4 separate regions of the Homo sapiens genome follow, and regions 2, 3 and 4 are each linked to region 1. Evidence: fine-mapped expression QTL. A gene starts in region 1. Each other region holds a variant in brackets. All regions are shown on one strand. Distances are from middle to middle.

Region 1 (8,056 bases):
GAAAGTGCCTGGCATATTTATAGAACAGTAAGAAGGCCAGTGTGGCTGCAGCAGAGACAAACAAAGGAGAAAATAGCAGGACATGAAGTGAGATGGGTAAGGAGATGGGGAGGGGGCAGATTGTGTATGGCCATTATAAGGACTTTGTATTTTACTCTGAGTGAAATGGAAGTATTTGGTAGGTTTGAGAAATGACATGATCTGACCTATGTTTTAAAAGAACTATTTCAACCGCTGGGTTGTGAAATAGGCTGAAAAGCAGTGAGATCAGCAAGGAGATGGTTGCAGTATCCAGTGAGACATGATGCAAATATTTGCTGATGGATGGGATGTGGGGTGTGAGAGACAGAGATAAATCAAAAAGGACTCCAAGTTTTTTGGCATGAGAAAGTAAAAAGATGGCGTTGCCTTCAACTTATGTGCACAAGACTACAGGAAAAACAGGTTTGGAGGCAGATCAGCAGTCTGGTATTGGACATACACATTTGAGATGATTATTAGTCATCCAAAGAGAGATGTCATGTAGGAAATTAGATATCAAGTCAAGACACACGGGAGAAATCTGGGCTGGAGATATGAAAATGTGAGTGTTGTCAACCTATACATGGTATTGAAAGAAAAGAAGACAGATATTTATGTGCATAGAGACAGGCAAGTGGGTAAGAGGTGGTGGAGGGAGCTTGTGGAAGGTCTCTACTGCATGCTTCAATTTTCCCAGTGGAATGAGAAGCCAGGTTATCCATAGGGAGTTTCTAGTTAAGGGACAGGAGGAATGGCACACGCCTAGCTGTAGAGTAAGAGTGATTCCCAGTAATAACTGCCAGACTACTAGTCTTTATCTGGCCTAAGTTTCCCAGACTCTGGAAGTCTAGGGCTCATTCTGTCAGTGTCTCTCTTTGGTCCACCATCCCAGGCTTCAGTTTTTCTCACCTGTATCTTTGTGGTAGGGTAAACATACAACGTGGCTCTTTCCTAAACAGGGACTTTAGTATCCTGGCTCAGAGAACCTGCTCTTCCAAGTCATTTGAATGTAGCGTGCCTGGAAAGAAGAAGAAGGAACCATAGAGTTCAACAGCTTCAAACCTTGCTCCATGTTTTTTTACGTGAATCCTAGGGAAACAATTTTATTTGTGGTAAAAGATTTATATGTACAGATGTCCATAAGTGTTATTTATAATTTAAAAATGTGGAAACACTCTAAGCATCCCAAGAAGGGGAACTTTTAAATAAATTGTCATACACCTGTAAGATAAAATATTATATAAGCATTAAAAGCAATGTTTACAACAATGCTTAATAACATGGCAAATGACTATAATATGTTAGATAAAAAATTAATATAGAGGTCAGTTGGATTGTGAGAGATTTTCTCACTCTAGGAAGATTCTTCAATCACTATGTCAACAGACACAGATGTTTCCCTTTCTTCCTATGATAAAGATCAAGGATCCAAACTTGTTCGAAAAGTTGAAGAGCCACCATTTGTTCTCACTGGAATGGCAGGCTTTCCAGCAATTGTTCCATAAGGATTATACAAATGGAAGAGCAGAGGAAATGCTAAAAGGTCCCTTCTCCTGATCCACATGTGTTGTAGAAGCAATGACTGTTGGTATGGGCTGTTCTGTGTATTAGGAATTCTGGGCAAAGCCTAAGCCTTGGAAGGAGGATGCTGTCTTGATCTTGTAAGAGGACCTTACTTTAGTTAGACATCTCATTATTGAGGTTACATGTTTATGTTGGAAATAAATTATTTGAGTGGGTTCAGACGATAACACGGTATTTTGAATACTGGCTTCCTTTCTTGCATGCTTGATTTGCCTGGTGACCAAATTACTAGTGACTAGTTCACTAACTAGGTCATTCAGGGAAGTCAAGTTAACACAAAGGAAACATGTCACCTAATTCCACTTGATGATGTTAAAACTTTAAAACCACCTTCTTAGACTGTAAAGATTAAATTAGGACCGGGTGTGGTGGCTCATTCCTGTAATCCCAGCACTTTGAGAGGCCAAGGCGGGTGGATCACTAGAGGCCAGGAGTTTGAGACCAGCCTGGCCAACATAGCAAAACCCTGTCTCTACCAAAAATACATACACACACACACACACACACACACACACACACACACACACACACACAATTAGCTGAGGGTGGTGACACATGCCTGTAATCCCAGCTCCTTGGGAGACTGAGCCATGAGAATCACCGGAACCTGGGAGGCGGAGGTTGCAGTTACTGTACTCCAGCCTGGGTGATAGAGGGAGACAGAAAAGAAAGATGAAAGAAGGGAAGAAAGAAAGAAAGAAAGAAAGAGAGAGAGAGAGGGAGGGAGGGAGGGAGGAAGGAAGGAAGGAAGGAAGGAAGGAAGGAAGGAAGGGAGAAAGAAAGAAGAAAAAAGAAAAGAAACAGAAAAGAAAAGAAAGGAAAAGAAAAGAAAAGAAAAGAAAGAAGAAATTAGTTCTAAAGAAGATAGCTGGCGATCCCTGAAGTATTCCCAGTTTGCTGAAGAATTTCACATGCTTTGTATGTTATATAGGAGTCTTATCTGCCCTGGTTAATCTAACTTTTCTTCTTCCTGTCTTGTGAACTGGCTGTCTCTATTAGAACTTTTCTGAAACGTGCATGGAATACATTAACAACTTGTAACGCCTCTCACAACTCTTAAGTGTATGTATGTGTGTCTAAACCGAATCAAGAAAGCTTACAATAGAGCTTCATAGTAACAGTATTTATTTCAGAATCATAATTGTAAACATGAGAATAACTTAATTATGAACTCCAGTTTAGCTCTTTTATAAGTGCAGAATTATATTTTAGCTGCTGTTATATTAGAATAATTTTTAAATGTCATCCTATTTTAAGCACTCATGCTAAGGTAAGTGAAGAACACTTTTCAAATTTTCTCCAGAAGAATCATAAACAAGAAACTAAACAAATTACCTATAATGAAAGTGACTAATGAGCAAGCGGGTTTGGCCAGATACTATACACAAACTTTGATAAAAGGCAAAATGCTTAATTTATATATATATATTTTTAGATGGGGTCTTGCTCTGTCACCCAGGCTCTAGAGTGCAGTGGCATGATCACAGCTCGCTGAAGCCTTAACTTCCCAGACTCAAGCAATCTTACCACATCAGCCTCCAGAGTAGCTGGGACTACAGGTGCACACCACCACGCCCAGCTAATTAGAATGCTTTATTACACTTGTGAAATTTTCTTGTCTAACCTGAATTTACATTCTATAGTGATAACATAGCATATGTATTGTTATTAAAGTGACTATGTAAAAAAATTAATATAAAACTGTATATACAATATGATTCCAATTTTTTACTTTCATATGTGCAGAGAACACAGAATGAAAAGAAATAGTCCTAATAATTATTTGTCAGTGGTCGACTTGGGTTTTTTTCTATGTTATATAGCTCTGTGTTTTCTAAATATTCAGTCAGAAGCAGATATTTTTCTTATCATTACATGTTTAAATTATGGTGGAGAATTTTCAGCAAATATTAAAATAAGGAACTCCTTGGGAGGCCGAGGCGGGCGGATCATGAGGTCAGGAGTTTGAGACCAGCCTGGCCAATATGGTGAAACCCCGTCTCTACTAAAAATACAAAAATTAGCCAGGCGTAGTGGTGGGTGCCTGTAGTCCCAGCTACTTGAGAGGCTGAGGCGGGAGAACTGCTTGAACCCAATAGGCGGAGGCTGCAGTGAGCCGAGATCGCGCCACTGCACTCCAGCCTGGGCGACAGAGCGAGACTCCATCTCAAAAAGAAAAAAAAAAGGAACTCCTGAGTTATCCCCAGTCCTCCTTGGGTCACTCTGTCCAGCTTCTGATTCCTCTGCTTATTTTAGCTGCAGGCTTTATGAGATCTCCCTAGTATTTGGTACCTCATTCCTGGACTAAGTGGTCAAACGTGTGTAATGGGGCAAAAGGCCTTAGGATGTTGAATAATCGCTGAGCAGGTGGTAAACCTGTGACACTGATGTGATGGATGTAGGAGTGGTCTCCTTGCAGCCCTGGAGCCTTTCATCAGAGTAGGATTTCACCCATCTGAGCTGGCAACAAGCCCTGTTATTCCCAGGACATCTAGAATTCATCAATCGTGCCTGGATTGTTTATTCACTTCACTCATGCTCCTGAATTCTTTGTAGCAGAGTCATTTCCTGTTTAATTCTCTCCAAAGTTTCCCCCTTTGGCCCAGGACTGAAAATTATCTGTTCTACAGTGCATAAAATATTTTTCACAAAGGTAAGCCGTTAGTTATGTATTAGTCTGTTCTGGAAAAAAAAAGTCAAAATAGTTGAGACCTACAGTTAGTCCATGTGATCTGGAAGTGACCAATAGTCATCACAGGGGGTGCACTTACCTAAATCGAATCCGTGTGTATCATTTTCTGCGTTGGTAAGTAGATCCACGTTTTCCTTTGGGAGGCTCACTTTAATATCCTTCTGCTTCTTTAAGATTGGGAAACCACCCAGGCCTCCCAGCTCTTGGCAAGCAACACTCTGACTTCATGTTGTTACTCAGCATTTTGTTCCTTATTGAAATGCCTGGCTCTGCACAACTGGTTTGTAAAGTCTGAAGATCCCCTGGCCATGCCCAGAAACAGCAGCCTCAGGAAGACAGAACTGAAAAGAACACACAGTGAGAACGAGAAGGGCTTTACAGCTCCGGTCAGCCTGACTCAAACCTGTGTTAATAGCCCAGACTCTTGTTGCTCCATCCAGACCTTCCTCTCTCTTCTAGTCACAATCCTACACACCCTTCTAGTAGGAACTCAAAAGCCACCTCACTCAGCCTAAAGTAATCTATCCCTCTTCTGTGTTTCTTATAATACTTTTATTTACTTTGTCTTACAAATTTTCCTTGTATCATACTTACTTATGTATGTATGTCTTCCTACGAGGTTGTAAGTGTTCAGGAAAATTAGAATGATCCAGTTTAGCTTGTACACTTCTCCTTGAGCACAATGCCTTGTACTTATTAAATAAAAATGCTTGAATTGCATGGAATTGAATCAAAATCTAAGAAAATAATCTGCTTTAGAATAGATCTGAGAATGCTGAGTAATGCACAACTCCTGCCTTCTTTGGGGGGACCTGAAACCTTAGGGGGACTTCAATTACTTCTGGATTTGGTATAGCTTCAGCAAAGGCAAGATTTCCCAGGGTTGCTATGGCCTACAGGAATATCAGCCTCCATTGGTCTTAGTGTCTGGCTTTAAATGGTAATGGAATCACACTGATTTTTTATGTTCGTATAGTAACATCATAAAGATACTGAAAATACTGGCAGTATGAAAGGAGAAAAGCAAATTCATTTCTTTTTTGAAAGATAAATCTCATTCATAAGGGATTAAACTTTTATTGTAGATAAGGTGAAATTTGGTAAGTTAAAATGAGAAGAATTTCAAAATGCTTTGTTGGGTGAAAAAAACCTTCTAAAGTAGTATGTTTATTATGATTCTTTTTTTGGTAAAAACAAATTTAAAAAGATAACTTCTATATAAAGTATATGTATACACGCCTGGGGAAAGCATTTGGAAAATTATACAGGCATTAATTTCTCCTACAGTTAAAGTGTCCCTAACAAAAATTGGACATAGCACAATTAGCTGCTTATTGAACATAATTTAATGAATCACTGTTAGTAATAACCAGAACTGACTGGGAACTGGGAAATGATAAAAAGCTGCTGCTTCCCCTGGCTGTAATGGACTGTACTGCAGGCAGACCTGCATGGCAACAGTGATGAGGCATTAGACGGTGCTGAATACGTGGCGGAAAGTGTAAGGAAGTTTGTGTTTCCTTTTGTAGGTTTTGATCTACCTTTTTAAAATTAAAGCTAGCAATAACCAAATACATTTATGGTTATGAAAACAAATTTATTGTTAAAATTACTATTTTTAAAATTCTGTTCTACTGTGAGTTTTAACATTTCTGTTCCCATTAAAACATTTTTTTTTAAAAAAGTTAGTTTTAAATTGCAATTTGGCTTAATTTTAATAGGAGATACACTTTTAAAGGACAAAATCTAAAAGGCACATGCTAGTATTTCTAAATGAGAAATTTTTGTTCCATCCCTATTCCCCAGCCATCCTTCTCCAATTTCAACCAGTGTTACCTGTTTCTTTACATTCTTTTGATAAGTTGAGATTTCTTAGAAATGCACCTATTTTGCAACAGTAGAATAGGCTATATACTAAAATACTAACTGTAGTTATTTTCAAACAACAGGATAATAGGAAATATTTATCTCTTTATAGTTTTCTGGATTATTTTTTTCCCCAGTAAGTAAAAGAATTAAAGATAATTTCTAAAACCATTTTGTTGGACTCTGTGTGACAGCATGCCTAAATATTACATTGTCATCACTTTTTAATTATTCCATTTCTCTGCTTCTGGTCTTTAGTCTTGGTTAACAGTATGGCAATGCAAAAAAAAATTTCCTTTTACCTACTTTCTCTTCCTTCCTCTTCCTCAGTCCATACCTCATGAAAAAAGTAAAATTGCATCAAAGTCATATTCTGAAAAGAAATTTCTTATTAAAATTTTCACTGGGGTTTCTGAATATAATTTGACTCATTCTAATTAAATCAGATTAATTAATACCTGCTATGCTTGGTTCACTAAAGATGTTTTAAGTAACAGCAATAATAATAGCAAATTCTTAGGACACATTTATCTTGCTGGGTTAGGTAGGAAAAGATTATATTTATTTTTTAAATGATTAATGAAATAAAGAAAAGCTTGGAGATTGGAGGTGGGATAATGGTAATTGTCCATATTTACATTTTGAAAATACATATTTTTGAGCTACTTTCACTATGCCTGGAATTAACAATTTTGCTAGACCTTTTCCAGATGTGAGAATTTGATCAATAGCACCATTTATCCATAACTACAATGTATCTGCCTTGGAGTAGACCACCTCGGGCCCAGGAAAACATCAGCTCTGGCCTTGTGGCTATGCCACCTGCAAATACAACCCCAAATTTTCCTTACTGGGTGTTCTCTTCTGTATCCTCTCTCCCTTCCCTTGTTATTTATCTCATTTTTCCTTCTTTCAGGAGGCCAATGTAAGCCTAGAGTGGTAGAGTGGAATGAGCATGGATACAGGACTTTGGGAGCCAGGATTCGTATCTAGTTCTCTGCTAAACTAGGTGTCTTAGGCAAATCACCTCAGTATTCTGGTTTCCTTCTCTTCCTTCTTTCCACAAATATTTGCAGAGCTCCTACCCAGTGCTAAAGACTATTCTAGGTGCTAAGATGTAAAGATGAACAAGACATGACCACTGCACTTAGAGACTGTGTACTTTGTCTCTCCAGCTGTCCCTGAGAAAGCTGCATCTCAAGACAGCAGCTTAAGTGAGTTTGTGGTTCTGCCCACCTGCTGTCTGGCCAGTGAGGAAGTGTGTCTAATGTGGGCACCTACTGGGCTCCTCAGTGGCAAAAGAGGAGCCTAGAGATGGAAGACATGGAGTATAGTAGGGACACAAGGCTCTGTTAGATGGTGTCAGGGAGCAAAAGGTGGCAGCAGTGACAGCAGCAATTTGGCTCTATGCCCTTGGACAATGCAGGGTGTGGCTAGGGCTGCTGTGGTCAGAAGGAAAAGCAACTGTGCTTTTCTGGGTAGAACATCAAGTGAAGACAGTTAGCCGAGGTAGCATGATTTGTTACGATTGACTGTCAGAAAGAGTCACAAGAATGCAGGCTTACCTTGAGCCTTGGGTTAGAAAGATAATGAGTTTGGAAGTCAAGGAGAGGCCAGTGAATTTGATGCAAATCATTTCATGAAATTAAACCCCTTATTCTATGGGACTCTTCTTTCTCTTCCTGGGACTTGGCATTCTTTATGTCTTGACATTTATTGGATGAATGTATGAATGGAAAATCTTCACAGAACTTAAATGTACATTGAGAACACATCACATCCTTGGTGGAAAACTGGGAGGCTGGTAATCAAGAGCTGAACATTTTATTTCATGAAATAATATCACATAAAATGCTATAATTGAGTGAATGGTCTCGTCAACAATTTTACTCA
Region 2 (8,056 bases), 20 kb before region 1:
ACAGCCACATCTCATGAGAACTCACTATCTCCACAACAGCACCAAGAGGGATGGTGTTAAACCATGAGAAACCAGCCCCATGATCCAATCACCTCCTACCAAGCTCCATCTTCAACAATGGGAATTACAGTTCAACGTGAAATTTGAGCAAAGACACAGATTGAAACCATACCAGCCATAGATGGGTGCTGCACAGCCAGGGCTTTCCGTTTGGAGCTGCCCATTAAATACCCAGTTGCTGTGCCCATTCACTGGCAGGCCAATTAATACTTTCTAATATAATTTAATAAACCCTTAACTTTGTGAGTGGCCAAATGGCTACTACTACTCAGTTTTCAAGACTCAGTTCCAATATGCAGATAAAGTTGTGAAAGAATGGAGAAAACTGTTAAGATTAGTTATCTCTGGGAAAGGAGAGTAGGTAGGGGTGATCATGAGAGGGACTTTTCACTGTATAACCTCCTATGCTATTTGAATATCTCACAATATTAGTGTATTATTTTTATAATTGGATTTTCAAAAGTTAGAGAAATGGGGGTGCCGTCTTTGTTTTTTTTGGTTTAAAAATGACCTAAAATGTCTTGTAAAGAAGGCGCAAAAGCCATATGGGAAACAATAAGTAAAAATACCTTAAGTAGTTTTTAAAAATTATTGTCTTAAACATCATTGAGAGCTGTTGTCTCATTTAAAATGTACTCATTAACACGCCAAAGGATAAAATAAATAAGTAAATAAGGAGCATGTCGTATGTCCTTTGTAAATGCAAAGCAATTCTCTCATCCACCATTAGTGGGCCATCAGCCTTCCTCTTCAATTCCTACCTGACTGTGGGACATGTCCAGCCTTCTGAACTGGGTAGACCATGTTCTCCTGTTAGTCTTCCTACCACATGTACCCTGGTATCCTACCACAGTACCATATACTGTACTCTTCTTTTCAAATGTGAATCAGGTGTATGTGATCATTTGATTTTCATTATAACCCTGGAGAAATAATGAAAGACACCTATTACCTCTTTGCTGATGAGGAAAACCTCTGCAGTTTTTGATGGAGCTAGGATGAGGATCCTGGTCTCCTAACCAGGTAGGACATTTTCTCTGTTTCTCCCATGCTGCCTCATCTCTTAGATTGTTAGACCTGGACTCCCAAACCACCATGCACGCATTCCTTTTTTTTAAATGTGATTATTCTAGTGATACTGTAAACATAGCTCCCTAATTCTCTTCTAATGCTATTTCACAGCACTCTACTGTTTTCCTGATAACATAAAAAATTGAATATATATACATATATTCCAATAGAGTGTGTGTGTGTGTGTGTGTGTGTGTGTGTGATATTTTTTTCCCTAACCAGGCTATAAGCTCAATGAGGGCAAGGACTATATGTTGCCCATCATGACTCTATGCCTATTTAGTGCCTGGCATATTTGTTGAATGAATGAACAAACACTAGCTACTTTGTTAGTTCCTCCTGTTTCCGTTGCAGAATTATTAAAACTAATTTGAATGGAGAAGGAAATTGGTTGAGTCAGGTATCTAGGAGGTTCAGGAATCAGTTGGCTTCAATCATAGCTCTGTGGAGGTTAGACTACACTTCTTTTCTTCTTCTTACCCCTTCCACTCTTCCCCTTCTTTTTCCTCTTTCTTTCCTCCCCATTCTCCCTCTTTTCCTCTTCCTCCTCCTTCTCCTTTTGCTCCTCTGTCTCTGCCATTTTCTCCTTCTGCGGCTGGACCTGCTCCACCTCCTCCATGCAGGGTGGTGAAGATGGCACAGGGAAGCTCTGGGATCTCTTGCCCTAGCTTAGCATCCCAGGGGAAAGAAACATATCTATTTCAACATCACTATTTTAATTTCAGGAACAGATAATTTTAGGGTTGGCCAGGCCTGTGTCCTATGCTCCCAGTGTGGCTGGAAGGGGGGTAGGGTACAGTGATAGGCAGCCCCTCTGAAACCATGTGGAAGCAGGGAATAGTGGTTTCCCCAAGGAAGGAATGATGAAAATAACATATGTCTGCCATAAATATTTTCTTAGGGAATTTTATTAAGAAGTAAAGAAGAGGCTACTTTTAATATGAAGCAACTTCCTGTCTTTTTGAATTAAAGTTCCTTAGATGGAGCTAAATTATGACCTTTTGAATTGTTTGACTTAGATCATAAACTTTTACAAGATGAAGTACACTTTATTCTTCGAGTCTCAAGGTGTTAATAAGTCAAGTGCAGTAATAAAGAGAAGCCCACCTACAACCTTTTACATCTATCTGTTCAGCAAAGCAGAGGACAGCAAAACATAGTTGTTTTATTTTGGCTTCCAGCCACATAGGAACTTTAGAAATTTGTTTGCAGATAAACTGTTTCAATGTTGGAGAGGAACTGTACTGCTCAGTAACTACTATGGGATGCAGATCCCCATTTCATGGAGAAAAAGCTGCAAGCAGCGTGCTCATTTGCTGTGCATATGGAAAAACATAGAATGCTCACCATTCACATGACTGCTAAAGCATTGAAAGTACTGATATTTCTGTACCCTCTATTCTCAGAGGGGGAAGTGGGTTTTCAGTTTTGAGCATTCGTTGATTTGCCTAGGTTCCTATGTTTGAAAGTTGTCTTCTGGGAAAGAAGTAATAATAAAAAAAATTTTTGTTTTAAAAAAAGACCAAGCTTTTCTTATCCATTGCTGCTTCAGGGTACTTTACTTTTATATCCTTCCCACATTGGCGTGAACTGTCTGAGAATGCAACCGTTTTGTTGTTGCTGCTGTTGTTGTTGTTATTGTTAATTTTTAAACAAATATTTTTGTAGAGATGGGGTCTCACTCTGTTGTCCAGGCTGGTCTCTAACTTCTGGCCTCAAGCAATCTTCCCACCTCGGCCTCCCAAATTGCTGGTATTACAGGTGTGAGTCATTGGGCCTGGCCTGCATCATTTTTTAGAAATAGAGAATGAGTGTGACAAGTATTCTATTCAGTTGCCCAATAATGTAGTCAGATCAGATACTTAATTGCAGCTAGAAAGTATTAAGTGGGTTCTTTTTTTTTTGGTCACAGGTCTTTTTTTTATATATAAATTTGATCTTAAGTAGAAGAAATAGTGAACTTCTCTGCTTTTTAAAGTTATAAATATATATGAATAAGAAAATACTGACAGAAATGAAAACAACCTCACATCCTGTACTTCCTGACATCCTCTTTTAATTTTGTAAAGTTTCCTGTCATTATTTTCCAGTGTATTTATTTTTAAGGAAGTGTCTTTAGCAAGAAGAAAGAGACAAGCACTGCTTCCCTTCCCCATATCCCTCCCTCTCTCCCTCTCTCTCTCTCTCACACACACTCAGACACTCACATACATACACACACACGCCCCTCAGAGATTTAGCAATTTTGCAGTATTATTATTCTACGATTCAGCAACCATGACCCATTTCTAGGTGGACACATAGATTTGGGAAGCAGTGGAGTGAAGCTTCAGCACCAAAGGGAAAGCAAGAGGTACTAGGTCCTAGATCTCTACATTTATTCATGGTGAAGGTGTGATGAAATAAACATGTCGTAATATCATTAGTTATTGTTGTTAAGCTACCATTCATTGAGCTATTGCTAGGTATTATGTGCTAAATACTAAGTGTGCTGTCCTAAGTCCTAAGTACTTTACATGCACACACAGACACACACACACACACACACACACATACATTGCAGGTTTGTAATATGCCCACAATTTTTTAAATCAGCTTTGTTTCTTTTTCTTTTTCTTTTTTTAGAGACAAG[G/T]TCTCGCTCTGTTGCCCAGGCTGGAGTACAGTGGCACAATCATATCACTGCAGCCTCCACCTCCTGGGCTCAAGCAATCCTCCTGCCTTAGCCTCCTGAGTATCTGGGACTACAGACATGCACCACTGCACCTGGCTCCATGATTCTTAATATCAGAATTTCTTCTGTGGGTTAAGCCTGTGTTTTTGGTGGTCATGACCCATTAGTAAATTATGAAATTAATTTAATGAGTAGAGATAAATTCAATTCTATAACATCTTTGTGAGGTGCATTATATTAACCTCATCTGACAGATGAGGAACATCAGAGCTTGGAAGGTTAAGTAACTCACCCAAATTCACAGACCTTGTTAAATGTAAGATTGCATTTGGAGTCTTTCTGTCTCCAAAACCTTAACTACTAAAGCTATACTGTACCATTTAACATATCTCACAGTAATTCTGGGCATATCACACCACAACTATAACTACATATAGAAGAAAACCTACCTTCTAATATATCTTATAAAAGAGAAAATAGGGTTTGTAAATTAGCAACCAGCCTGTATTGTATTGAATATAGGCTTAAAAGTCTAATATGTATGTGCATATGTATGCATGTGTGTGTGTGTGTGTGCATGTGTGTGCGTATCAATTAGAGGGTGGGGAAAAACATTTATAGAACTCAGTACCATTAACAAAAACATTAAAATTCATTGGCATTCAAAATTCATGAAGGCCCTAGTCAATTTTTGGCTGTTATAGCAGAATACCAGAGATGGGTAATTTATTAAAAAAAGAAATTTATTCTGTTCATGGTTCTGAACGCCAGGAAGGCTGAGAGCATAGTACTGGCATCTGGCAGGAGTCATTCCATGGCAAAAGGATGGATGGCAGAAAGGGGCAGATGAAGCAGAAAGAAAAAGGGGGCCAGGCTCACCACAATTAACCCATTCCCATGATAACAACATTAGTCCATTCATGAGGACAAAGCCCTCATGACCTAATCACTTCTTAAAGGCCCCACCTCTTAATATTGTTACAATGGCAATTAAGTTTCCAACACATGAACTTTGGGAGACATGTTCTAACCATGGGGATGACTGACTTCTTAGGCAAGAGTTTCTTACTTTAAAAAAATGCATAATAATAATATTTTGTGTTTACACAATGCTTTCCAGTTTATACAGGGCTTTTCTAGATATCATGTGACTTTCAAACATGCTATGGACTTTATATGTGAGGCCTTCACATGGTACAGGCTGTAAAAGTGGTTCTAGCTGATAACAAGTAGTTATCAACAAGAAAGCTAACACATTTTTACCACAATCCATGTTATAAAAATGATTCTTATAGACAATCTGCCATTCCCAGCTCTTAAAGAAGTAGCATAGCTGCCAAATGAATAACCAAATAGATATATTTAATGGGCTCTAAAAAGTCAAACATAAAACCAATTAATGAATTGGCTCTGGGACTCAAATAGCTTTTGCAGGAAACATCTTTACTTTCAGAAATAATTATAATGGTGTTTCTTAAACACTTTTGCCATTTCAGAAAGATCCCCTGAAATTACTAGGAACACATCAGGTGTCAGCATTCATATATTCTCACTCACTCTTCATTTTTTTAGGGGAAACAATGTATCCAAATTGACACAGACAGAACTTCTTTTAGTTGGTGTTGGCTGTCATTTTATTCAGGTTTAAGTATGAGTCTAATTACCCTCAAAGGACTTTTTGACAAGTTTATCACACGACCACCAGAATTTCTGCTGTGGGTGAAGGAAGTGTTTTTGGTGGTCACAACAACTATCCATGACATCAATTTAGTGAGTACAGACAAACACTTTTTAAAAATGAAATAGAACAGAATATGTAATATCAGAATGTGTCACTGGTAGTAAAGGTAAGTGTGTTTCATAGAACTTTTCCTGCAGTGTTGTGTTAGTCCCTTCTTGCATTGCTACTCTAAACCCCGAAAATCTGAGACAGGTCTCAGTTAATTTAGAAAGTTTATTTTGCCAAGGTTGAAGATGAGCCTGCGGCACAGCCTCAGGGAGTCCTGATGACATGTGGCCAAGGTGGCTGGGGCACAGCTGAGTTTTATACATTTTAGGGAGACATGAAGCATCAATCAGTATATGTAAGAAGTACATTGGTTGGGTCTGGAAAGGCGCGACAACTTGAAGCAAAGGCAGGAAGCCTTGAAGCCGAAGCAGAGAGGGGGCTTCCAGGTCACAGATAGGCGAGAGACAAATGAATGGTTTCATTCTTTTGAGTTTCTGATTAGCCTTTCCAAAGGAGGCAATCAGATATACATCTATCTCAGTGAGCAGAGGGATGACTTTGAATAGAATGGGAGGCAGGTTTGCTCTAAGCAGTTCCCAGCTTGACTTTTCCATTTAGCTTAGTGATTTGGGGGCCCCAAGGTTTATTTTCCTTTCACATTATAAAGAAATACCTGAGACTGGATAATTCATAAAGAAAAGAGGTTCACAGCTCTGCAGGCTTTGCAGGAAGCAATGATGCTAGCATCAGCTTGACTTCTGGGAAGTCCTCAGGAAGCTTATGATCATGGCAGAAGGCAAAAGGAAAGCAGGAAAGCAGGCATGTCACATAGTCAGAGCAGAAGCAAGGAGAGGGGGAAGGTGCCACACACTTTCAAATGACCAGATGTCTAGAGAACTCACTATTGTGAAGACAGCACCAAGCCATGAGGGATCCAAACACCCTCCCACCAAGCCCCACCTCTAGCACTGGGGATTACAATTCAACATAAGAGTTGGGCAGGGACAAATATCCAGACTATATCAAGTGCCTATGTGTATATTCTGTGTATACTGAGTGAGGATACTTAATGTGGGTTATGGTTTTAAAAAGCTTTGGAAACCACCATGTTAAGGCATTATCACCAAAGGAATTTTAGTGAAAATATAGTTTTTGGGTGGATGTTTCAGAGCACACAAGACTTTTTGTTATATGGAGTGGGGCACAGTGGAGAGAATTGCTGAGGGGTGAGGGATGTTGATGTCGAAAGTACAAAGGAGGGCAAATGAGCAAAACTCCACCTAATCCAGTTATACCTAGTGGTGGTCCTAGTCTTTGGTCATGGCTATGGCTAATAAGATTTAAGATATACCTGTGGGTAGCACTGGCAGAAAGAAAGGCAAAAGGGAGAGGGACAGAGAGAAGAGGAAAAGAAAGCAAGAGGGAAAGGTCAGAGTGTTGACAGTGTGAGTTGGAACAAAGATTGGGATTTATGTGTGAAAAAGAGGAAAAGGAGAGATAAGAGCAAAACTAAGAGACGTGCAAGATGAGGATTGGCAGATAGAATAACTTTCAGCTTTCAGCTGCCAGTAACGTAAGCTCAACTACAATGGCTCAAACAATAAATAAATGTATTGATTGGTTCACTGGCTTGGTTATGTCACAAGGATCCACAGTGTTGTCCTCAGTTGCTCTCCCCTTGTGAATATATGATGGCTATAGGATGGCTAAAGCAGGGCTGTGGGTCTGGGATGACTGGAAGAGCAACTGGGATTATGTGCTTCCTTATCCCATTCAAGGAGCAAAAGGCTGGATTCCTGTGGATCTCTGAATGACAAGGGATAATTTTCCAGAATACCCAGCACTCTTCTGCATACATCTCATTGGCCAGACTTGAATCACATACCCATTTCTGAATCTATTACTGACAGATGGATGGCATTACTTAGACCATTCGGATGCCTTTCTGGAGCTGGCATCAATCTTTCCCAGGCACATGACTAGAAGAGAGGAAAGCAAAATTGAGGTTCATTAGGAACACAGGAGATGATTTTTTGCTGAGTAGGCAATCAACAAAGTTCACTGCACACAAGAATTTTTAAAAACTTTGGTAATATATCCTAGTGGCTATAGTAGATTTGATATGGAAAATTTCCATCACTAAAACAGTTTCATTTTTAGAGTCCTATTATGTCATGTTCCTTCTCATAGAAGAATACCTTTGAAGGTATTTAAATAAACTTAAAGAAATCAAGTACAGAGAGTTTCTATTTTCTGTATATTTTACCACCAAAAGAAATCTCAATTTCTACCCCAAAATAATATGCTGTATTCACTCCCTAGAGACAATGCACAATGATTGACCTCCGTTGGAACACACATCATAATACAGAAGCACTAGCCATTGTGTAGAGCTTTACTTCTCTGCCTGATTCCCTCCCCCACTCAGAAGTTATACTTCAGCATTATCCTCCTATGTCCTAGCCAACTTTCTGCATCATGACACAAAGACACTGATGGTTAGGATCATTCTAGCCCGAAGATAG
Region 3 (8,056 bases), 190 kb before region 1:
CTGGCAAGGCAGACAGGGATCAGCCATACTTTAAATTCTATCTCAAGAGCCAAAGAAACTTCCTCATCTGACTTTCAAAAAAATCTCATCTAGGGTTAGGGGAATCAAAAGAGTCAAAATGGGCTAAGAGGTAAATTCTATCCAGATAACAGATAATGGACCAAAATAATTGACTAAAATCAAATTGCCACACATATACCATTAAGCCCTGAGAAGGTTATATATTACAGTATAGAAATTGATAGTCTAATAATGATTCTTTATTAACAAAACGTTAATCATCATATTTTAAGAATGCAAGTAAATATGTGATTCGCACAGAAATCAGTCTAATAAAAATTGAGTTTGGGAATTCAAAAAAACATAAAGCATTCATTAACTTGCAACTTTCCTTTAACAAGGTTAGATAAATGAACATATGCTATTTTACAATCTATGAGAAGGTACATATAAACTTGTTCCTTTTATTATTACTGTCTAAGCAATCTTGTCTTTTCTGAGAATATTTTTCTCATAGAATTTTAAAGCAAAAAGAACATTAATTTTACCTATGAATCCCCAACTTTCAGAAAACTCAGGTGTAACTTGTTCAGATTATCTCACAAGACTGGGGCACCTGACCATGCAGCAACTTCCACCACTCCCTCATTTGGCAGACTCCCTGTCTTTTAATTAAACCCAGGCTTCTCTAGTTTAAGAATAATTAAACAGAATAAAAAAATGCTTTCTTGGTGTACATTCACATCCTTGAAATATCATATCATAGCTAAAGAAATCATAACCTTGAACTCAATCCACCTCTTCCAAACTTTTAATGTTAAAATAAGCAGAATAAATTTTAAACAAACTTTAATTCCCTTTCTTCTGTCCAGAGACCTTTGAAGTAGAAATCCTCAATCACAAAAAACAAGTCCCTAGAGAAAACTAAAAACTATATTTGGGCTGAATTTCAAATGAAATAAATAAAATTTCATTACTCAAAACTCAGAGTTTTCTGAAAAATAAAGCTTAAAAGAAGGTATTCTAATTTAAAAAAAAGGTAAAAAGTCAGATATGGAAATCAAACATTATATACTGAAGGTTTTTTAAAATGAGATACCCCACCTTTAAACGTCGGTTGCAACTTAGCTCACACCTGACCAATCAGGTAGTAAAGAGAGCTCACTAAAATGCTAATTAGGCAAAAACAGGAGGTAAAGAAACAGCCAATCATCTATCGCCTGAGAGCACAGAGGGAGGGACAATGATCAGGATATAAACCCAGGCATTTGAGCCGGCAATGGCTACCCTCTTTGGGTCCCTCCCTTTGTATGGGAGCTCTGTTTTCACTCTATTAAATCTTGCAACTGCAAAAAAATAAATAAATAAAAATAAAATAAAATAAAATGAGATGCCTACAACTCTCAACTCTTTCCATATTTTCCAAAGAGGTATCATTAACCCAAAACAAAAGCTTTTTACACTCTGCCAAATTTCATCACTAACATTAAAAAGCAACATTTTTCTAATCTCTTAAAAAAGGTGTTCAACAACCTATCTGAGTACACATATTACCACTTAGTTAAAAAAAAACCAAAAATACAACCTATTACTCCATTTAAATTTTTGATAATATGACTTTTTTATTTTTACAACTGTGATGGTTAATACTGAGTGTCAACTTGATTGGACTGAAGGATGCAAAGTACTGATTCTGGGTGTGTCTTTGAGGGTGTTCCCAAAGGAGATTAACATTTGAGTCAGCGGGCCGGGAAAGGCAGACCCACCCTTAATCTGGGTGGGCACAATCTAATCAGCTGCCAGCACAGCCAGAATAAAAAGCAGGCAGAAGAACAGGAAAAGACTAGACTGGCTTAGCCTCCCAGCTTACATCTTTCTCCCATGCTGGATGCTTCCTGCCCTTGAACATCTCTCCAACTGCTTCAGTTTTTGCAGTCGGACTGGCTTCCTTGCTCCTCAGCTTACAGATGGCATATTGTGAGACCTTGTGATTTCATGAGGTAATACTTTATATACATATAAAGCTCCCCTTTATATGTATATCTATCCTATTAGTTCTGTCCCTCTAGAAAACCCTGACTAATACAACAAGATTTTTCAATTTTATCTGTAGTAGATTGCATTATTGGCCCTAAATTTTCAAACTTCACTTTTTACATGCACTTTGTCATGTAACTCTGCAGTCTGTCCCAATAAATGAGGCAGATAAATTTCCTGCTCTTTGATTTGGGCTCAGTCATGTGATTTTCTTTGGCCAACAGAAACAGGTAAAAGCGTCAGTGTCCTAGTCCCAAGACTAGGCCTTAAGAGGCCTCATATGCTTCTACATGCCTTCTTATGTTTCTATCATCCACATGAGAAAACCATCCACAGGACAGCTTGCTAGTGACAGAAAGAGGATGACGGACACGTGAAGCAGAGCTACTCCAACTAATCCCAGCTAACCACTGCCATGTGAGAAAGCCCTGCCAAAATCTGCAGTGCCACCCAACCAAGCTAAGTTGAAAGCAGCTGGCCCATGGATACACAGGTGATAATAAACGAAAGTTATTTTATGCTATTGAGTTTTGGAATTTTTTTTAATTAAGCAAATACTAACAGATACATAATCCATGGAAACATATGTAGAATACTTCCTAAAAACATACATTAAAAATTAATAAATTTTCATAATTTACTCACAAATTATTCATACAATAATATAAATGTGCTCAAAATACCAATACTGATTTCTGGAAGTCTGAGACCTAAAGTACATAATTTCTCTTTAAATCTATGTATCAAAATATTAGCAAATAAAGCAGTACCAAACCACGAATTTACCAAGACAAAAGATGATTACACTTGACAGAAGATGATGGTAAACATTGAATACCTAAAACCACGTAAGGGGATATGAGCTATATAACATATTGTTTTACTCTCTGTACAGTTTTATCCCTACATAATAAAAGCCAATGTCCCTGAACTGTATACATTATATAGGTTCCCTTACTAAAATACCTTAATTGTTAAACAATTTTATGTAATGCAGTTAGCTGTTACAGAGGAAGTAAGTGGAGAGTATTTAGTCCTCTATTCTCTGCCCTTCCAAATCTCTCCCCCACCATGGAAGAAAAAGGAACTTATCTAATTGATTCATCTGAGAAAAGATATCATGCATACTCCATTGAGAAAATTGAGCATACTCCATTCAGGCCTTCTGGATTTCTTCTATAAAGAAATAATTGCCCACTTAGAGGGTGCAACTGATCTGTAATACATGTAGTAACCTTAACAGGTAAAACATCCGAAGAAAACTTTGAACAAAAAAAGAGAAAGCATGGTTTGTCCGTGTCCCCACCCAAAGCTCATCGCGAAATCCCACATGTTGTGAGACGGACCCATCGGGAGGTAGCTGAAACATGGGGGCAAGTCTTTCCTGTGCTGTTCTCGTGATGGTGAATAAGTCTCACGACATCCGATGGTTTTAAAAAGGGATGTAAAAGGGACATTACCCTGCACAAACCCTCTCTGTCTGCTGCCATCCACATAAGATGTGACTTGCTCCTCCTTGCCTTCCACCATGATTGTGAGGCTTCCCCAGCCACATGGAACTGTAAGTCCAATTAAACCTCTTTCTTTTGTAAATTGCCCTGTCTCGAGTACGTCTTTATCAGCAGCGTGAAAATGGACTAATACAGCAAGGAAAAGAAAAAAATTTAAAACTAACATTAGCTGGCCACACTGGTTCTGCCCTTAATCGCAACACTTTGGGAGGCTGAGGTGGGAGGACTGCTTGAGGCCAGGAGTTCCAGACCACCCTGGGCTACAAAGTGAGACCCTGTTTCTACAAAAAATTAAAAATTAAGAAATTGGCTAGGCATGGCCATGTGCACCTCTAATCCCAGCTACTCAAGAGGCTGAGGCAGAAGGATCACTTGAGTCCTGAAGTTTGACTTTGGACTCCAGTGTGGATGACAGAGTGAGACCTTGTCTCAAAAACAAAGAAAGAAGGGTCAGGGGTGGAAAGAAAGAAAAATGGATACACTGAAATTAATATCCACAGACAACAAAAGATTTGCAGCTAAAACAAGAACTAGGTGTATTTTTCCCCCCAGTATCTCTGCATGGTAACAAGGTGTACTTTAGCAAAGAACACTGAGAGAACACGAAAGAGTCAAGCTGGGAGTGGTAGCTCACACCTATAATACCAGCATTCTAGGAGGCCGAGGCAGGTGGATCACTTGAAGTCAGGAGCTCAAGACCAGCCTGGCCAACATGGCAAAACCCCATCTCTACTAAAATTACAAAAATTAGTCAGATGTGGTGGTGCACACCTGTAATCCCAGCTACTCAAGAGGCTAAGGCATGAATGAGAATTACTTGAACCCACAAGGCAGAGGTTGCAGTAAGCTGAGATGGCACTATGCACCCTTTAGCTTAGGTGACAGAGCAAGACTACGTCTCAAAAAAAAAAGAAAAGAGTCCTTGGAAATTAAAAATAATATAATAGAAATACAAAATTCTATAGAAGAGCTAAAAGATAGAGGAAGGCTTCCAACAATAAAAGAATAAAGAAAAGGAAAATAAGAAAAGAAAATCAGAGGATTATCAATCTAGAAAGCTCAGAACATTTGAAAGAAAATGAGAAGTCCAGTAAGAGAACAGAAAATAGAAGACAAAAACGCCACAAAAAGCATACCAAAAATGACACACAGTAAGGCACGTATATCTTGAAATTTCAATACGTTGTAGATAAAGGAAAGATTCAAACTAAAAGTGTCCATGGAGAAAAGATGTCACATAGAAAAATTAAGCAATCACAATAACATCAATTTGTCAACAACACTAAGAAAAAAGTGGAATGATGTCCTCAAAATTCTGGATCAAAATTATTTCCAACCTATAATGTTTTAGCTAGCCAAAGTAACAATCAATGTGGGCACTGAATAAAAATATGTTTATATATGCAAGGTTTCAAAAATCCTTCTCCAAAAAATCCAGTCAGAAAGCTACTGAAAAACAAAGTCTTCCAAATTAGTGAGTGAAAACAAAGGTGTGGCATAAGTAGCAGGGAATCCAAGACAGAAGGGAGGCAAAGGTAATTTCCAGAAGGACAGCTAACTGCTGTTCAAAATTAAGCAGGATGATCGAAGTCTCCCCAAGGGGTGTTTTTAAGGGAAGAAAAAATGAAATCAAAACAAATATTAAAATGTCTAAACATACTGCATAATTATTTTTACTTCTTTTTTTTTTTTGAGACAGAGTCTCGCTCTGTTGCCCAGGCTGGAGTGCAGTGGAGCGATCTTGGCTCACTGCAACCTCCACCTCCCCGGTTCACGCCATTCTCCTGCCTCAGCCTCCCAAGTAGCTGGGACTACAGGCGTCCACCACTACGCCCAGCTAATTTTTTGTATTTTTAGTAGAGAAGGGGTTTCACTATGTTGGTCAGGCTGGTCTCGAACTCCTGACCTCTTGATCCGCCCGCCTCAGCCTCCCAAAGTGCTGGGATTATCAGTGTGAGCCACGGCGCCCAGCCAATTATTTTTACTTCTATTGGAAAATGCGGGACTAAAATATTAATATACATGAAGAAAATTAGGCAAATGAAAACCGAGGTAATTACTAATTCCAGGAAAAAAAAAGGATAAGAAAATACAACTACAGACACCATTAAATGGGAAAATAAACACTGATTTGGTCCAAAACCTGAGAATATCTATACTAGAAGTAAAATTCCTATCTTTTCTTAGAGACAATATCTAAAACATCAAAAGTAGCACTAGAAAACTTTCTTTCAAGAGCCTCTTCATGCACAGAATTATATACTTCCCTTGATTTTCTAAGTCCTTTCTCTTTTGTACCCTTAAGAAATCACTAAAATTACTGATTCTCTTTTATATAATGCAGTGTGGAAATATGGAAGTAAATATAAGAAACATCTCAAATATTTTAAAGGGACTACCTCTGAGAAGAGGGATGAGGCAGGAGGGTACTGATTCAGCCACAGCTTAAGATATTTGACTTTTTTTTTTTTTTTTTTTTTTGACACGGAGTCTCGCTATGTGCCCAGGCTGGAGTGCAGTGGCGCGATCTCGGCTCATTGCAAGCTCCACCTCCCGGGTTCATGCCATTCTCCTGCCTCAGCCTCCCGAGGAGCTGGGACTACAAACACCTGCCACAACGCTCGGCTAACTTTTTTTTTGTATTTTTAGTAGAGACAGG[G/A]TTTCACCGTGTTAGCCAGGATGGTCTCGATCTCCTGACCTTGTGATCAACCCGCCTCTGCCTTCCAAAGTGCTGAGATTACAGGCGTGAGCCACCGCACCAGGCCAACTATTTGACTTTTTAAACCATATATACAAATTACTTTGATAAAAATTTTAAATTTCATATACCACAGAGCTTGATGATTTGAATACCGGATAACTATTTCTAAAAAATTTTTAAAACAAAACAATGCATTCCTCAAAAAACAGATATGATCATTCTTCTACTTTAAAATAAAATTTGCCCCTAAAACTTGAAGGTCATTTGATTCCCCTTTTAAGATGTCTTCTAAGTGACAATTAAATTAATCCAAGGTTATGATTATGCTTGATTCAAGTATCTTTTAAAAGTTACAAGTAGTCAAGGGCTACAAGTAAACTCTAAGAATTAGCACTATAAATGCTAGAATTCAGGAAAATGGGGTAGAAAAAAATCAGCATCTTCTCCTAAAAGAGATCACAGTACAGTACTTTATAGTAGAGAAGATAAGATATAAAGAAAAATCAAGAAACATCTGGTTGTTAAATATTGTGTATGGAAATAAGTTACAAATACATCACGGTAGGTATTGTCACATTGATTCACTTCATTTTCCCCATCCTTTCCTCCTTAAAATACTGCAGTAAACAAGATCATATTTTCTCCAACATCACCATCATCCCCCTCTTTTTCCGCAACCTTCAGGAAACTGTAAGAGTTTCTGGGATAGTAATTAACAATCATTACTTTCTGAAGAGAATGTAAATGTAAACCAGGGCTCCCTAGAACCACAAGTGCCAAATATGGCTTGCAAGTTTGTAGGAAATAGAATATTTGCCTCCACCTTTCCACACATTAAAATTTTTAAGGACAGACGCGGTAGCTCATGCCTGTAATCCCAGCACTTTGGGAGGCTGAGGCGGGCGGATCACGAGGTCAGGAGATCGAGACCATCCTGGTGAACATGGTGAAACCCCATCTCTACTAAAAATACAAAAAATTAGCCGAGCGTCGTGGCGGGCACCTGTAGTCCCAGCTACTCGGGAGGCTGAGGCAGGAGAATGGCATGAACCCGGGAGGCCGAGCTGGTAGTGAGCCGAGATCGCACCACTGCACTCTAGCCTGGGCGACAGAGCGAGACTCCGTCTCAAAAAAAAAAAAAAAATTTAAATGTCAGGAATTTTTTTATGATGATGATGATGATTAAGGTATGCTATACAAGTAAATATTTATTTTAAAACATCACATTAGGTCCAAATAAAATGTGATTTTCTATATCTAATGTTTACAAACACCACCAAGAGACTACATAAAACAGGTTTATAAAGTCTATAGATCAAAATGCATCCTCCAAATTTGTTAAATTTAATGTTTACAATAACGTAGTAGAGTTCTGGAAAAATCTTACAACATTAATATTGACATATTATCCTCTTCTTGGTTGGATTACAGAAGAATTCTATGGAGAGCAAGAACTGTAACTCTGTACCTGCTTAGATTTCCTATTTTAAACTCAATATCACTTTTCTCATTCTGCGTTTACATGCTCATATCATAACTGCAGTAACTATGACTAGGTTTTAAATAATGTTTTAACAATATTCCTAATTAGATAATGAAAGGTAAGATTACAATAAGTGACTAGAATTAGTTAGCAGCTACCCTGGAAATAACAAAGATACCTAGTAACCCATTTAAGGAGAAACTTTTTATTACAGTACAAATGCAAAAAAATACTTACCTCGACAATATTCCATTAAGATAAGGACTTCCCATACATTATCACTAATTGAATTAACAGCACAGTCCAAATAGCCCACAATATTTT
Region 4 (8,056 bases), 53 kb after region 1:
TTTCAAAAAAGAAAAAGAAAAAAGACTTAAAAAAATAACTTCTTCAAGCATTCATTTAACAATATTTGTTGAGCGTACTGTGTGTATCCTGGACCATGTTGGGGGCTGTAGGGAGCAAAAAAAATGGATCAGTCAGGATTCTTGCCCAAAAGGAGCAGGCCTCGGCACTGAGTTAAAGCAAGTGCAAAGTAACTTAGTTTACCAGCACTCGAAGTCTTACCTATGGCCAACAGTAAGTCTTCAAAATGCCCAGATAATTCTCCTTTTATGCTGTCCACAATGTCCTTTTGGCTGATATTTCTGTATTCATCAAATGCTAAAAAGAAGCACCACAAAATTATTTAAAGCAACGCAGTTGAGCACATTTGAATATATTCTAGTTTTTTATTTGATATGCAGAAGATCAAGTAGCAAGCTAAAAAACTCCCTCTTTAAACCATGAAAATCTGGGCACAGAAGTTTTTGTTTTTCTTTTGTTCCTTTTTAAGGAAATCATCTACAACAAAACCCAAACTCCCTAGATGATTTTCTTCAATGATCTCTCTTTCTCTTTCCCCTTCTCTCAAGCAGTAAGCATTTTAAATAGCCTAAATAGTTAAATAATAAATAATTTATCCAGTAAGTTGGGCTATTTTAAATTTTATTTATAGCAGCACCTGGGAAATGATACTATAATCACTAGTCAAATATGTTTTCTCTGGTAAAGAAATCTTAATTCTGAAGACTTCCTTGTGCTGAATCATTTCCTAAGGTGGCATGGCCTACTTCACACCTCCCAGAAGGCATTTGAATTTCTTGATCAGTATTTGCCCCAAGCAAAACCTGTACATATGTCACCAAGTATACAGGCATATTTTGTAAGCCAAGTATATTTTTCCCCAATACATTTTTAAAAAAAGAAATTTTGGAGAGAGACCTAGGGTTATCTGGTTTTTGTTTTTCAAACAAAGACATGAATAAAGCAACTATCACATACTGTTGTCATTATTTTATAAAATAAATGTGATTTTAATGCAAAAGTTAAGAAAGAACAATTTCAGAATTTCAAAGTCACAGTAATATCCTTATGTTTACTCATTGTTCCGTCAACTCAGCATAAGCTTGGTCTTGCTGTGTGGTTGTTCTGTAAACTAGCATCTGGAAGCCACAGTCAGAAGATGTTCACAGTAAATGAAGGTTTAGTTTTCTAGGTGTTGTTGCTTCCAGAACAGTTCTAGGAGATGCCATGAGCAAGAGGGCGGGTGCCCACAATTCCATGTAATAGCTGGTCTGACGATAAGAGTTGATCCATTCTACCACTTACCTTCATATCAGAAATAGCTAAAGGTTAATCAGTATTGATGTGTCAACAGAGACTCACCTGCAGTGTCTGGCTTTTCTGGAAGTGGCTAACTAGGGAGAACTGTTAGGTGGAGTGGAAGCAGTTGGGCTTCTCCATTCCACAGGAACAAGCCCTTCTACTCTCACCCTAGAGGGTGGCCTCTTTTCTTCTCCCTGCCACCTCCCTCCCCCATCTATTACCTGGTACTCACTAGGTAATCTACTCAGCCTCTATGGAAAAACAAAAGTGTAGTGTCAGTACTTCCTTGAGTTACAATACAGCTTTCCCATTTTGTTTCCTGAAGTGTGAATAACTGGAACAGACTTCGCAATTTTAAACTTCGTTTTTCTAGATCTTTGTATACTAAATGCAAAAACATTTGTAAAAACAACATACAACACAAAGGATTGTAATGTGAGTTTGTACTTAGTTTTAATTGAGGAAAGCTCCTTAAACACAGGATCTCAGTGAATTTGTCTTCATCCGTGCCCCATCTGTTCTCACCAGCTTTATAGAGAATCTATTCACAAGAGAATGATATTAGAGACACAATTATTTTCTTTTTGAGAGGTGACATGAGAAGAATCGGAGTTGTATTTCAGAGGTCAGTGCCATCATCTATTATCTAAATCTCTCACTTTCAGAAGACTAGAAATCAAAAATTGGGCTGTCAGGAGCCAAGGAGAATGATAACTACCACTGGGGCAGGCAAAAAGTTAGGGTTCCGATCCCCAAGCTTCAGGCTTCTCTTTCAAACAGGAAAAAAAAAAAAAGAAAAGTCCCTGTTGCTGCTATTTTTCTCCCTTTTCACATAAATGCAAAGGCAGCCACATAGGAGAATAGGTAAAGGAAATGTTTTCCCGCTTTGTTACTGACCTGGGCATCTTGTTTGGCCAGATGCTCATCCACTTTCAGACTTTCATCTCTTCTGCCCTAAACAGGAGGACGAAAACAAGGGCCATCCTTTAAAGATAGAAGATTCTAACACATAGTACTTCAACCAGCAGGGGATCTTAGTGGTTTTTCTTTAAGGCAGGACAGGTTGCACAGAAAAATCATGTACTCAGGGCTCCAGTTCTGGTTCTGCCATTGACTAGTCATGAAATTTTTAGCAAATCACACAATTTTGGGGGCCTCAGTTCCCTCCTCCGAAAATTCATATATATATATATTTAGAGACAGGTTCTCACTCTCTGTTGGCCAGGCCAGAGTGTAGTCCTGCAGTCATAGCTCACTATAACCTTGAACTCCAAGGCTCAAGCCATCTTCCCGCTTCAGCCTCCTGAATAGCTAATATGACTACAGGTGCACACCACCACACACAGCTAATTTAAAAATTTTTTTTAGAGATGGGATCTCGCTATGTTGCCCAGGCTGGTCTCAAACTCCTGGCCTCAAGCTGTCCTCCCACCTCAGCCTCCTGAATCTCTGGGAATACAAGTGTGGGCCACTGTGCCCAACCCAACACAGAGGTCTTATGTGGAAGAAAAGACAAGGTACAAACTGGGAGAACATATTTGTAACATGTATCTGATAAAGAACTTGTATCCAAAATACATAAAGAACTCTTAAAACTCAATATGAAAATAACAACCCAATTTAAAAATGGTTGAAAGATCTCAACAGACATCTCACCAAAGAAGACGCACAGATGGCACATGAAAAGATTCTCAACATTGTATGTCATTAGATAATTACAAATTAAAACAATAAGATGCCACTACACAACCTATTAGAAGGGCTTAAATCCAAAACACTGACAACACCAAATACTGGTGAGAATGTGGAGCAACAGGAACTCTCATTCACTGCTGATATGAAAGCAAAATGGTACAGTCACTTTGGAAGACAGTTCTGCAGTTTTTTAATAAAGCTAAATATCTCTTACTATATAATCAAGCAATTGCACCCCTCGCTATTTAACTAAAGGAGTTGAAAACATGTCCATACAAAAATCTGCACATGAATGTTTACAGAAGTTTTATTTATAATTGCCAAACTTGGAAGCAAAGAAGATGCCTTTCAGCAGGTAAAATAAATATTCTATACAATGGAATACTACTCAGTACTAAAAAGAAATGAGCTATCAAGCCATGAAAAGACATAGAGGAACCTTAAAGGCATATAGCTAAGTGAAAGAAGCCAGCCTGCCTGAAATGGCTACGTACTGTATGATTCCAACTATAGGACATTCTAGAGATGGCAAAACTATAGAGACAGTAAGAAGATCAGTAGTTGGTGGGGAGGAAGGTATGAACTGGCAGAGCACAGAGGATTTTTAGGACAGTGAAACTACTCTATCATACTGTAATGATAGACATATGACATTATACATTTATTAAAATCCATAGAACTATATCACAGAAAGAGTGAACCCTAATGTAAACTATAAACTTCAGTTAATAATAATGTATCAATATTCATTCACCAATTATAATAAATACACATACTAATTAATGCAAGAGTGAGACCTTCTCTCGCTCTAAAAAAAAAAAAAAAAAAAAAAAAAATTAGCTGAATGTGGTGGTGTACACCTGTGGTCCCAGTTACTCAGGAGGCTGAAGTGGGAGGTCTGCTTGGGCCCAGGAGGTCGAGACTACAGTGAGCTAAGATCACACCATAGTTCTCAAGCCTGGGCAACAGAGCCAGATCCTGTCTCAAAATAATAATAATAATAATAATAATAATGGAAAGGAAAGGAGAGAGTAGAATAGGGTCATATGGGAGCTCTCTGTACTTTCTGCTCAATTTTTCCATAAATCTGAAGCTGCTCTAAAAAGTAAAGTTTATTTAAAAAAAAAAAAAACTCAAAGGCGGGGCGCAGTGGCTCACGCCTGTAATCCCAGCACTTTGGGAGGCTGAGGCGGGTGGATTGATTGAGGTCAGGAGTTTGAGACCATCCTAGCCAACATGATGAAACCCTGTCTCTACTAAAATACAAAAATTAGCCGGGTGTGGTGGCGTGTGCCTGTAATCCCAGCTGCTAGGGAGGCTGAGGCAGGAGAATTGCTTGAACCTGGGAGGCAGAGGTTGCAGTGAGCCGAGATCGCACCACAGCACTCCAGTCTGGATGACAGAGTGAGACTCTGTCTCAAAAAAGAAAAAATAAAAAGTCCTCAAAGATCCCCAACTGTGATATTAAAGGCTCTATGGTTTAAGTGGTGTGTGTGTGTGTGTGTGTGTGTGTGTGTGTGTGTGTGGTATGTGTGTTCATGTACAAATACTTAAGCACATTATGGAAAGACAGGAGACAAAACCAAAACACGGGATTGCCTGAATTATTTGGCAAATTATAGGTGAATGAAACATTTAGCTACAATAGTTTAAAATGAATTTGTTCCTATTTTTAAACATTAGGTCCTTGTATGACTGTCTGATTTTTGCCTGGTTTCTTTTCTGTGCTGCTGATACCCTGCTGCTGTTTGCTTTCTTCTTGTTCTCTTTCACTTACGCT[C/T]GCTCCAATGACATAAATGCTGATTATCATCGGTCTTAATATAATACTAACCACTACCACCCTGTGTTGATCACTAAGTACTTCACATACTCTCTCTTTCTCTTAATCTTCATAACACCCTATGAGTACTTGTTATTGTTAGTATTTTAGTTTTACAGATATGAAAATGAATGCTTTAAGACTTAAAGAACTTGTCCAAATATACAAAGCTAGTTGGCAGCATGAGATTCCAGCCCTGTTTGATTCTAGAACCCTGTCCTAGAGCCCTACTCTATACTGCCTCCTGTGGGTGGGTGCATTCATGTCCATACACAAACAGATGTGCACTTAGGAATATATACCTCTGAGAGCATATGTTTGCAGCAATGCTTCATAAATTTGGTGTTGTGGGTTCAACCTTCATAAGTTTTTCACATTTAAAGTAACTGAAACCATAATTTAGATAAATCGCTTCCTAATGGCATAATGCCTCACTTTGACAGGTGCTGTTTCAACCATGAGGCTGAGACCGTTGTTGGGATTTTCTCACATTTAGGTGCTATGTAAATCAGCTGAAAGAAAATTGGTGAGCTATGGTTTAAATCACGTTCTCTCTTACACACAGCTGTGAATACACCTCATCCTTGACCTTACCATCTTTATAATAAAAGTCATAAGCCTTCTAAAAAGAGAAAGCAAGGTGTGGCCTCATTAGGTCACATGATGATTAATAGTTTGGCAGCTTTTCCAAGGTGGCAAGGCTGAAATTGCAGCAATCATTTTCTTTTTTTTAATCCTGAGACTGATACTCAATTTAATTCCCATCTCTAAAGATCATTCTTCTGTATCATGCTTCCTATTTAATTTAGAAGCTAACAAAAGAAATATTTATTCTTCAGAGTCCAGAAGAAAATAAACCTGTTCTTTAAAATGGAGACACTTATAATGGAAATAAATATTGTATGTCAGATGATGTATCAGAATGTCTTCTAATGTCAAAATTGTGAAACCTGACCAAAACACCTCCACTTACTGACTCAAATAAGTTTTCTTTGTTGTTACATCATTATGTATGCTTTTATGATCTTGGTTAAACATTATATTGCTTGGTGGCAATGAAAATGTAAAATGAACAAACCATTTCATAAGGAAAATTGTGAACTCATTGTCTCAGTTTGGTTATTTTTAAACTCCCTAAAAATTGTTATTGAGCATGCAGCTTACTGGGGAGTTAAAAAATAAAAAATAAAACCTTACATCTGCCAAAGTCAACAGAGCTTTCCGGAAGTCACCAGATGTTTCGGAACTAATGTCATCTCCAAGACTCTTCTTGTATACTGAAACCAAATCAGAATGAAATTAAGCCTTGACAAACTGAAAAATATGATTATAAAACAGAGAAAAGTTTAAATGCCAACACTAGCAAAGAATGGGTATGTGATAAGATAAATCTTGCCCTTTTATTTAATTTCTTCATGCTTTTCTGTTGTGAGATGGTACATTCTTCTTGTAACTCTTACTGCACTGTGTTGTGGTAGATGCAAAAGAATAGAAAGAGTTGTCATTCTGGAGCAAATCTTGGTTTATTTCATCTGACAATGGCACTAAGGGATGCATAGTGGAAAAGCTGGGGTGGATGAGCTACTAGTGTGCCTTTCAATTTCCATTCTGGCCATCTTCCATACTAAGAGAACCCTAACCTTAAGCAAGATATAATGTACACAGCTTAAAAACTACTTTCTCAGCTTTCCTCTTAGCTAGTACAGTTCTATAACTTAGTTATTCACAATGAAATGAAGGCAGACAAATCTCCTTAAAGGGATGAGGCCATGTTCATCTTAGTCCTTCCTCCATCCAACTGCCTTACATGTGAACTGATATCTGCATCTTGGGCAGCCATCTTGGACTGTGAAGATAAGGACCACTTCTTAGTGATGGCATAAAAGTAATCAAGAAGAAGTCTGAGTTCCTAAAAGCTTTGAGTAGCTGTCATACTAGACTTAGAATTGCCAATGTCTAGACTTCTACATATGATAGAAATAAACTTCTACCTTTTGTAAGCCACTGTAATTTTTCTGTTTTATCGAATCTAACCCTAATCTTAATGAATATAATTAAACCATATTTTTTCGTATCTCCCAAAAGTAAGAAAGCTACCCAAAACATGCCATTTCCCTTTACAAATGCCAACTGTGTGTTCATATATTTTAGTACTGACTAGTTGTAGCCCCTTTTGCATGGCCTGTGATGTGCAGTGCCCATCAGTCTTAAATCTCTGTCTGCCCCATCCATGGGGTGGTGATTCTCTTGGAGCCACTATACCCTTTGTTGTAGGTGACACCATGTGGCTATCTGAACTGTCTGCACCATTCTCAAGAATTCTATAAATTAGCCATACTAGCCATGAGAATTCTCATCTATTTAAATCAATGAAAGACAATTATAGAAAGTGATATGAGATTATCCAATAGCAAGAACTGCGCTGAGATGGAAACTTCTTCAGCATGATTTTAGTAAGTCTCTTTTTTATGAAATCTGTAACTTTTCAAAGCAATTCATATAAGCAAAATCCACCAAAAAAGTGTGTTATTTTTCTAAATAATAATATTTAGTAGGCATCATTAAACCTAATGGTTGTGATATTGTTACATCTATCCTTCATTCTAGTTAGATAAAAAACTTTAAATTTGAAAATATCAAGTAGAAGAATGAATATCCCATTTCTTAGAACTTGGGGAAGTATTTTGTAATTTTGGAATTATTTAGATGAGACTTTATAAGTCATTTCACACAGCCTCTCCCTTTCCTTCAAATATTTTGTGGGATATTAGAGTAAAAAATTATTTCAACCTAAGTTGACAACTACTTTATCCATTTTGAGGCACAGTAGAGTATAAAATCAAATAGAATATTTTAATAGTACAGGTGCCTGGACTAGAACTTTGAGTCCCTGATCCCTGTTTCAGTGTTCTCTCTCTCACACACCATTGACTTTAGAATACCGAAAAAAGTTAAGAATTTAGATCTCTCTTTATTTAGACTCTATTGTGCCACTGTACTGAATAAGCTGTAGAAGACATCTGGTCCCTTTATGAGGGCCAACATGATAGTGACTTCCTGAACCCATTGTATCTTCTCTCTTAGGGAGCGAGTGACACAGAAAAGGAGACAAAGACAATAGAATAACAAAGAACCAAAAGACTCCTGGAAATAATGAAGAAAACAGTAGCCAAGAATAACCAAAAGCTATGCACAAATATTTATAAGCCTTGGGTAGACAAACACCATGTGGTAGGGGAGGG

The links. PIP is the estimated chance that this variant, and not a neighbour inherited with it, causes the effect. A credible set is the group of variants that fine-mapping cannot tell apart.
Region 2: its variant is the best candidate, but not a certain one, in a credible set for the expression of LINC01094 in whole blood (TOPMed, PIP 0.74).
Region 3: its variant is the best candidate, but not a certain one, in a credible set for the expression of LINC01094 in whole blood (INTERVAL, PIP 0.87).
Region 4: its variant is the best candidate, but not a certain one, in a credible set for the expression of LINC01094 in whole blood (TOPMed, PIP 0.66).

Annotation. Positions count from the first base shown.
Region 1 is chr4:78,642,584-78,650,639 of GRCh38, reverse strand. It overlaps LINC01094 (long intergenic non-protein coding RNA 1094), which reads right to left and starts at 4,646. Exons shown (of 3, transcript NR_038308.1): 1 at 4,377-4,646. It also overlaps the pseudogene HIGD1AP13. RefSeq lists an enhancer at 3,810-5,009.
Region 2 is chr4:78,662,372-78,670,427 of GRCh38, reverse strand. LINC01094 (long intergenic non-protein coding RNA 1094) reads right to left here. Exons shown (of 3, transcript NR_038308.1): 2 at 7,456-7,510. Among named protein-coding and RNA genes, the nearest start is that of LINC01094, 20 kb to the right of the region's middle. The variant G/T (reference allele first, on the strand shown) is at 3,764.
Region 3 is chr4:78,833,601-78,841,656 of GRCh38, reverse strand. It overlaps BMP2K (BMP2 inducible kinase), which reads right to left. Exons shown (of 16, transcript NM_198892.2): 3 at 7,970-8,056. Among named protein-coding and RNA genes, the nearest start is that of BMP2K, 61 kb to the right of the region's middle. The variant G/A (reference allele first, on the strand shown) is at 6,208.
Region 4 is chr4:78,589,579-78,597,634 of GRCh38, reverse strand. ANXA3 (annexin A3) reads right to left here. Exons shown (of 13, transcript NM_005139.3): 7 at 6,012-6,091; 8 at 2,198-2,254; 9 at 1,748-1,841; 10 at 221-316. Among named protein-coding and RNA genes, the nearest start is that of ANXA3, 42 kb to the right of the region's middle. The variant C/T (reference allele first, on the strand shown) is at 4,776.